Regions from separate parts of the Homo sapiens genome. Here region 1 is linked to region 2. Evidence: fine-mapped expression QTL. Tissue or cell type: whole blood. Region 2 holds a variant in brackets; the other region holds the start of a gene. All regions are shown on one strand. Distances are between the middles of the regions.

Region 1 (4,114 bases), 62 kb after region 2:
GGAGAGCGCCTGTCCTCCCTTTCCAGGGCTGCCATACCCGTCTGACCAGCCCCTCCCTCCCTCCTTCCGCCTTCCCTGTCCCAGGTTTGGCACTGGGCCCAGTCCTTCTCCCTTTGGTCTTCTGTTAAAAGCTTCTCAGCCCTGGTGGGTGCGGGTGTTTGTTGGGGAGGGGGTAGCATGCCTTCCAATCACTCTTGGGAAAATTAGGCATTGTTTAAAGGAGCTGGGAGAAGGCCTGGTGTAAATAGGTGCTAACTGAATTTCCCTTGCTCCATTCAGCATAGCAGGAGGCAGGGCCTGGGGAGGGGAGGGGAGGTGAAGGAGCCACTCACTGTGCCCGCTCTTGGGATCTATGCATTTTTCTGGAAGGGACTTCAATGTGTGGGGTGTGTGTGTGTGTGTGTGTGTATGCACGCGTGCATTGTGAAGAGAGCTTGTCTGTGTGTCTGTCTTTTTAAGTTTGTCTGTCCTCCAAGGAGGGGGCTTCTGGGTCTCTCTGTCCTTCTGGGTAGGGGTCCTATGTGCCTGTCTTTCTGTGAGCCTGGGTGTCTCTCCTAGAGAAGGATGGGGAAGAAACTGTACATCTGTCCTCCCAGTAGGTGGTCACCCCCTTCCCTGGGTCAGGGCTATGTCACCTGTCCCTCTCCTCAAGGGGATCTGGCTGTCATCTGTTGGTCCTCTGAGTTCAGTTTCATCCAGTCCCCACATCACACCCTGCAGTATCTTCCAGAGAACCCAGCCCCAGCCATCAGGTAATTGCAGGTGGAATCTCTGCCTTGGGGACCTAAACCTCCTGCCTTCCACCCACAGCATGCCCTGCCTGGCCCCACCCAGGCCTGGGGTGCCTTGCTCAGCTCCCCAATCTCCAACCTCCCACAGGTGCGTGCTACGTCCCAACCTGCCCTCCTGACTCACTTTGATAATGGGAGACAGGTGCAGGGACTCTTCCTCTATTTCCTCTGGCCCGTTGGGAGCCTGGGTAAAGCAGGAGGGTCCAGGTAGCACCACGAGTGCCACACCACTCCACTGTACCCCCTGCCGTCCTGTCTCACTTCCCATGATTCACTCACTGGGAGCAATGGGAGTGACTCCCGCAAAGAGCAAGAACTATGAAGTCCCTGACATAGCTCCCATCTCCTCTTGCCCCCCCCAACCCCTGCGTTCTCTGCCTTCTAGCCCTGTTCATCATTCTCTAGGCCCTTCAGTGAGGCCTACAGTGTTCACCTGGCCCAGGGGATCCTAGGATCTTGGAAGGAGAGGAAGCCCCTGGGTTATGTTCAGGAAAAGTGCTGTGTTGGATCTCGCTCTTTTTTTTCTTTGAGATGGAATCTCGCTCTGTCGCCCAGGCTGGAGTGCAGTGGCACGATCTCAGCTCACTGCAACCTCTGCCTCCCGGGTTCAAGTGATTCTCCTGCCTCAGCCTCCTGAGTAGCTGGGATTACACCATGGCCAGCTAATTTTTGTATTTTTAGTAGAGATGGGGTTTCACCATGTTGGTCAGGCTTGTCTTGAACTCCTGACCTCGTGATCCGCCTACCTCAGCCTCCCAAAGTGCTGGGATTACAGGCGTGAGCCACCGTGCCTGGCCTTGGATCTCTTTTTATCTTGCACCTTCAGATGTAGAGGGACGACAGCCACTGTGTGTGTATGTGTATGTGTGTGTGTGTGTGTGTGTGTGCGCGTGTGATGTTTATTCACTCATTTATTTATTCATTCATTCATTCCACAAATATCTACCCAGACCCTCTTGGCACTGCACCAGGTGCTAGGGGTAGAACAGTAACCTGGAAAGATGAGGCAAATGGTTGATTTCAGATTCAAGGCTTTGGACTCCAGCTGTTCTGTCATCCAGCTCAGGCAGGCCCTCATAATCGCTTCAATCAGGGAGAACACAGGAGAGTTTCTCTGGGGTGTCGGCAGCTCAGAGGAGACCCAAATACTAGGAGACCCCTTTTTCCCATGCTTCCCAGTCCTCCAGTTTATTTCCCCCAGGAGGGAGGGAGACAAGACCCAGGAGTCAGGGTTGTAGTGGCTGGGCGGCCCAGGCAAGTCTGCTTGTTACAGGCACTTGTGCCAGGACAGGATTTCTTCCAGTTTCATATTCACTGAACTGCCTTTTCCTGGGTTTCTGGGGGTGGTGCTGGAGTGGGCTCCAGGGTTGGAACGGGCCCTTGGGTGGCGGCAGCTCTCTGCTGCCCCCACCTGAGTCCTGCCCGGAGGTGGCAGGTGACGGGTTAGGCCCAGCCCCCTCTGGGCCTAGCCACTCAGGTACGAGGCCTTTCCCCCCCATCCCCCGGGGCTGGGATCTCTTTTATAAAAGGCCATTCCTGAGAGCTCTCCTCACCAAGAAGCAGCTTCTCCGCTCCTTCTAGGATCTCCGCCTGGTTCGGCCCGCCTGCCTCCACTCCTGCCTCTACCATGTCCATCAGGGTGACCCAGAAGTCCTACAAGGTGTCCACCTCTGGCCCCCGGGCCTTCAGCAGCCGCTCCTACACGAGTGGGCCCGGTTCCCGCATCAGCTCCTCGAGCTTCTCCCGAGTGGGCAGCAGCAACTTTCGCGGTGGCCTGGGCGGCGGCTATGGTGGGGCCAGCGGCATGGGAGGCATCACCGCAGTTACGGTCAACCAGAGCCTGCTGAGCCCCCTTGTCCTGGAGGTGGACCCCAACATCCAGGCCGTGCGCACCCAGGAGAAGGAGCAGATCAAGACCCTCAACAACAAGTTTGCCTCCTTCATAGACAAGGTGAGGGTCCCCCCTGCGTGGCTGACTGTGCCCGCAGCCCCTTTCTCCTGGTAGTCCCGGTCCCTATGCACATCTCCAGCCCCCAGCTGGCGTCCTGCTGGGCCTCACCCGCCCTGGCGACACTCTCCCTTCCATCCTCCGACTCACCCCTCCCGTGCACCTTGGTTTGGGCTGGGTGAGGGTGGGGAGAGGGTCTGGACAGCCGGGATGAATCCTGGGGCTTCCTTCTTCCCTTTTAAACTGGAGGGTCTTGGAAGAGAGAGACAACTTAAGGGTACAGCCTAGTTCCCACCACCCCTCTCTACAAATCCCGTTCTTCCTCAGGTCATTCTGTCCCCAAATTATAAAAAATAATAGCGGTTATTGTTCTCACCCCAACCCGAGTTCTGACCGTCTTTTAAGCTATCGCCCTGCGGCAGTCCCAGCTGTTCGGGGACTACCCTCCTCCAGGTTCGCCTCTTCGCCAGCACTACCCCAAGGGCTCCCCAGTGGTGCCTTTGTGATTTTTTTTCTTTCTTTTCTTTTTTTTACATAGGGGTTTGGTGTGATTCTAGCATTCTAGGAGAAGGAAGTGGGTGTCTCGGTTCAAACGGGCAAATATTGATTGAGGCCTTTGGCGCCCGGAGGCCTGAGTGCGGGGGTCACAGAATGAGTCATACCCCGGCCCCTGCGCCGGCAGCGTGGGCGGGGCCGAGGGCGGGGTGAGGGGCTGCGGGCAGCAGTCTCGGGACGCTCTCCTCCACCTGGCGGAGCTCGGCGTCGGGGGCGGTGTGGGTGGGGTGGGGTGGGGTGGGGTGGGCTGGGGTGGGGTGGAGGAGGCGCCAGGGCCTGGCCTCGGAAAGCCCATGCAGGATTCAAAGTCTGCGGGCGTGGGACGCCCCGCCCGGGGTTTACGTCCTGTTAAGTTTATGGCTTCAGATAACGCGGTCGCCCACCAACGCCCCTCGCCCATTCAGCCCGTGTCCCTTTCTCGCGTCCTGTCCCTGCTCCGCCCCAGCGGCCTGGCTCCACTTTCACACAGCAGGAGCCAGGCCGGGTTTTGCAGCCCTGGGACTCCGCTGCCTGAGGGGCCCCGGGCCCCCGGCGGCCCCGAGGATTGGGCCCTTCACGCTGACTGGCTCCTGGGAGGCATTGTGGGAACGGGAGGAGGGAAATCCTGGGGCAGAGTAAGCCGGGAGGAACCGGAGCCCCAGGAACCCAGTGGTCGGGGGCCCTTGGCGCTCCAAGCGCCTGGACTTGACTTGTTGACTGCGTTTTGCTAGCCCTGGGGTCCTTATAGAGAGCAGCTAAGCATAGGCTTTGGAATCTGAATTCTTGGTTCGCACTGCTCTGCCGGTTCCTGGTTATGGACTCCCTTGCCAAGTCTTATTTC
Region 2 (4,114 bases):
AAATAACAACCTGCTGTTTATGTGTTGGAATTGTGTTATGTATCAGGGCATAAGAGTGAACAAGATAGTCCAGTCTCTGCTCAAAGGGAGCTTACAGTCTGGTGCTGCACTGTCCTGTCCAATCTGGTAGCCATTAGCTACTAGCTACTGCTGTGGTTATTAATTTATTTTTTAAAGTTTTTAATTTTGGCTGAGTCTGGTGGCTCATGCCTGTAATCCCAGCGCTTTGGGAGGCCGAGGCAGGTGGATCACCTGAGGTTAGGAGTTCGAGACCAGTCTGGCCAACATGGCGAAACCCCGTCTCTACTCCAAATCCAAAAAAAAAAAAAAAAAAAAAAAATTAGCCAGGTGTGGTGGTGGGCGCCTGTAATCCCAACTACTCGGAAGACTGAGGCAGGAGAATCACTTGAACCTGGGAGGCGGAGGTTGCAGTGAGCCGAGATTGAGCCAGTGCACTCCAGCCTGGGCAACAAGAGTGAAACTCTGTCTCAAAAAAAAAAAAGTTTTTAATTTTTGTGGGTACCCAGTATGTGTATCTATTTTAGGGTACACGAGATATTTTGATACAGGCATACAATGCATAATAATCTCATCAGGGCATCCATCACTTCAAGCATTTATCCTTTATGTTACAAACAATCCAATTATACTCTTTTAGTTATTTTTAAATGTACAATAATTTATTTTTTTTGAGACGGAGTCTTGCTCCATTGCCCAGGCTGGAGTGCAATGGCATGATCTTGGCTCACTGCAACCTCTGCCTCTCGGGTTCAAGCAATTCCCCTGCCTCAGCCTCCCGAGTAGCTGGGATTACAGGCATGCACCACCATGCCTGGCTAATTTTTGTATTTTTAGTAGAGACGGGGTTTTACCATGTTGGTCAGGCACGTCTTGAACTCCTGTCCTTGTGATCTGCCCGCCTCAGCCTTCCAAAGTGCTGGGATTACAGGCATGAGCCACTGCACCCAGCCTTAGGCTGGTGCTTTTTAAACTTTTTTTGCTTCTGGGGAGTGGGTGATAGGGAAAGTTCTGCCAGCCTGGGAGGGGCCCACTAGAGCCTGCTGCTCCAGTGTGGATTGTGGGGAGAGGAAAAGGAACTGTGTGCTTTGGGCCCAGATCACTGGAGTGCCCTGAGTCTCTGAGAAGTTTACCCTACATCCCTCCTGTGGCAGCACCATCCACTTCACCAGGATCTGACCAGGGCCTTCAGGGGGACACAGCCTCCCCGGATCTGAGCATCACTATCATTCTAATTCCTTGGGCTGTTTCTGTGTAGATAATTATTTTCCAGCTCATTCAGGCAGGTGAGGTTGAGGCCAGCAGTGCAGCTAAATCCTTACACCGTGACTGGGGCTGCTTTTATACAGGTTAGGGGAAGAATAATCACTTATGGCTGAAATCTAATGGAAGAGGGAGTTCTGTGTAACTCTAGTGGGCAGAGCTGAGTTTAGAAGGTTAGTAGGAGGCAGATTTCAGCCCAGTAGAAGGAACAATAATGTTCCAGTAATTATACAATTATTATCCAACAGGGGCTATACTGTCATAAATTCTTCAAACGGAGGCCAGATGTTAGGAAGGCCACAAAGAGGATTCCTACTGGGAGAGGCCAAACTTGAACCATCTGTTTATTTATTTTATTTTATTTATTTATTTTTTTGAGAATGGAGTTTCACTCTTGTCACCCAGGCTGGAGTGCAATGGCACAAACTTGGCTCACTGCAACCTCCGCCTCCCGGGTTCAGGTGATTCTTTTGCCTCAGCCTCCCAAGTAGCTAGGATTACAGGCATGCACCACCACGCCTGGCTAATTTTGTATTTTTAGTAGAGACGGGGTTTCTCTATGTTGGTCAGGCTGGTCTCGAACTCTTGACCTCAGGTGATCCACCCACCTCGGCCTCCCAAAGTGCTGGGATCAGAGGTGTGAGCCACCACACCGAGCTGGTAAGTATATTTTTATTTTTATTACTATTTTTTTTGAGACAGAGTCTTGCTCTGTTGCCCAAGGCTGGAGTGCAATGGCAAGATTTCAGCTCACTGCAAACTCCGCCTCCCAGGTTCAAGCAATTCTTCTGCCTCAACCTCCCAAGTAGCTGGGAATACAGGCGCATGCCACCACGCCTGGCTATTTTTTTTTTTTTTTTGTATTTTTAGTAGAGACAGGGTTTCACCATATTGGCCAGGCTGGTCTTGAACTCGTGACCTCGTGATCCGCCCGCCTCAGCCTCCCAAAGTGTTGGGATTACAGGC[G/A]TGAGCCACCGCGCTGGGAGGTGTATTTTTAAACTTAGAAAAAACGGCCCAACTGTTTTCCAAAGTAGTTGTACACGTTTTGTATTCCCACCAGCAACATATGAGGGTTTCATTGCTCTGCATTCTACTTATTTATTTATTTATCTTTGTGACAAGATCTCACTCTGTCACCCAGGCTGGAGTGCAGTGGTGCAAACATGGGTCACTGCAGCCTCAACCTCTGGGGCTCAGGCAATCCTCCCGTCTGGGCCCCTTGTGTAGCTGGGACCAAAGGCACACGCGACCACGCCAGGTGAATTTTAAAATTTTTTGTAGAGATGGAGTCTTACTTTGTTGCCCAGCCTGTTTTTCAACCCCTGGTCTCAAGCAGTCCTCCTGCCTCAGCCTCCCGAGTTGCTGGGATAACAGGTGCGCACCACCAAGGCAGGCTAATTTTTTTAAATTTTTAAATTTAATTTAATTAATTTGGTTATTTATTTTGAGACGGAATCTCGCTCTGTCGCCCAGGCTGGAGTGCAGTGGCGAGATCTCGGCTCACTGCAAGCTCCGCCTCCCGGGTTCACGCCATTCTCCTGCCTCAGCCTCCTGAGTAGCTGGGACTACAGGCGCCTACCACCACGCCCGGCTAATTTTTTATATTTTTAGTAGAGACGGGGCTTCACCGTGTTAGCCAGGATGGTCTCGATATCCTGACCTCGTGATCCGCCCACCTCGGCCTCCCAAAGTGCTGGGATTACAGGCGTGAGCCACTGCGCCCGGCCAAGGCAGGCTAATTTTTTATTATTCATATATTTATTTTGGGAGGAAGGTTGTTTTTTAATACTCAAATATTACCCCAAACGTGCACACATACACCCCTTGGTTTTTCCCCTTGAGGTTTATGATATTTAGAAAAGAACTCCCCCACCCTCTTAGGAGACGAGGGAGGTTGCAGGTGCCCCAGAACTCTCGGTGGGCTCTCCCAGGAGTCCCAGGACAAGCCGAAAACCAGGAGACTCTTGCAGTCAGGGGGCAACTGGGGAAGCGGCGGCGTGGGGCACAGGAGCGGTGCCCTGGGACCGGCGGGACGGCCCTGAGACCCCGGGGCTGGGAAGCAGCCGCAGCTGCCGAGCCGGGGACACCCAGGCACCACCCAATGGGAGCGCGCGGGAGCGAGGCAGGGGCAGCAGCGGAGAGAAAGGAGGGTATGGGCAGGATAGCGGCTTCCCAGAGCCGGGGAGCAGCTCCCTAACCTCACTGCGAGATCTTTAAGGAGGAGGGTTCCGCTTGCCCGCCCTCGGATCCTCCCTCGAGTAGAGTCCACCTCCTCCCCTCTCCTCCTCGGTCCCGGGCTTTGGCGCCTTCCCCCAGTCCCTCTCTGTCCCCCATCCTGTTCCGTCTTGGCAGTGGCTTTAAGGGGAATCCCACCCCGACGTAAAGGGGCTTTGTCCCCCAGCTCTCCTCGCCCCTTAGCCCCGCCTAGCCAGGAGTCAGGCCTCAGAGGGTCTGGTGGCTGGGAGGAGGGCGCTCCAGGGGCCAGGGGCTCGCGGAGGCCACTCGTGAGGGAGGACCAGCCTATGGACCTACGTGTGGCCGAGATCAGCGCGACTGAGATGCGGACAGAGAGTGAGACTCTCCAGGCTCAAATCCCTGGCAAGCCACTGGCGAACTGGCGTTCCTGGGCAAGTCCCTTAACCTCTCAGCTCCTTCATTTCCTCGCTCCTAAAATAGGGCTAAAGAGAGTGCATTCTTGGGATTGTTGGGAGGATTAAATGAATTAATATATGTCAAGCTTTTAGGACCCTATCTGGCCCAGGGTAAGTGCTACATAAGGTTTGATATTATTGTAAGCTGAGCACAGAATTCCAGTGTCCTCTTCCCAGGTGCC

What was found. PIP is the estimated chance that this variant, and not a neighbour inherited with it, causes the effect. A credible set is the group of variants that fine-mapping cannot tell apart.
Region 1: KRT8 starts here. The variant in region 2 is the best candidate, but not a certain one, in a credible set for the expression of KRT8 in whole blood (TOPMed, PIP 0.88).

The regions. Positions count from the first base shown.
Region 1 is chr12:52,903,286-52,907,399 of GRCh38, reverse strand. It overlaps KRT8 (keratin 8), which reads left to right and starts at 2,324. Exons shown (of 8, transcript NM_002273.4): 1 at 2,324-2,742. The coding sequence starts at 2,419. RefSeq lists a silencer at 3,384-3,553.
Region 2 is chr12:52,964,881-52,968,994 of GRCh38, reverse strand. No RefSeq gene overlaps it. Among named protein-coding and RNA genes, the nearest start is that of KRT18, 18 kb to the right of the region's middle. RefSeq lists an enhancer at 3,453-4,096. The variant G/A (reference allele first, on the strand shown) is at 2,248.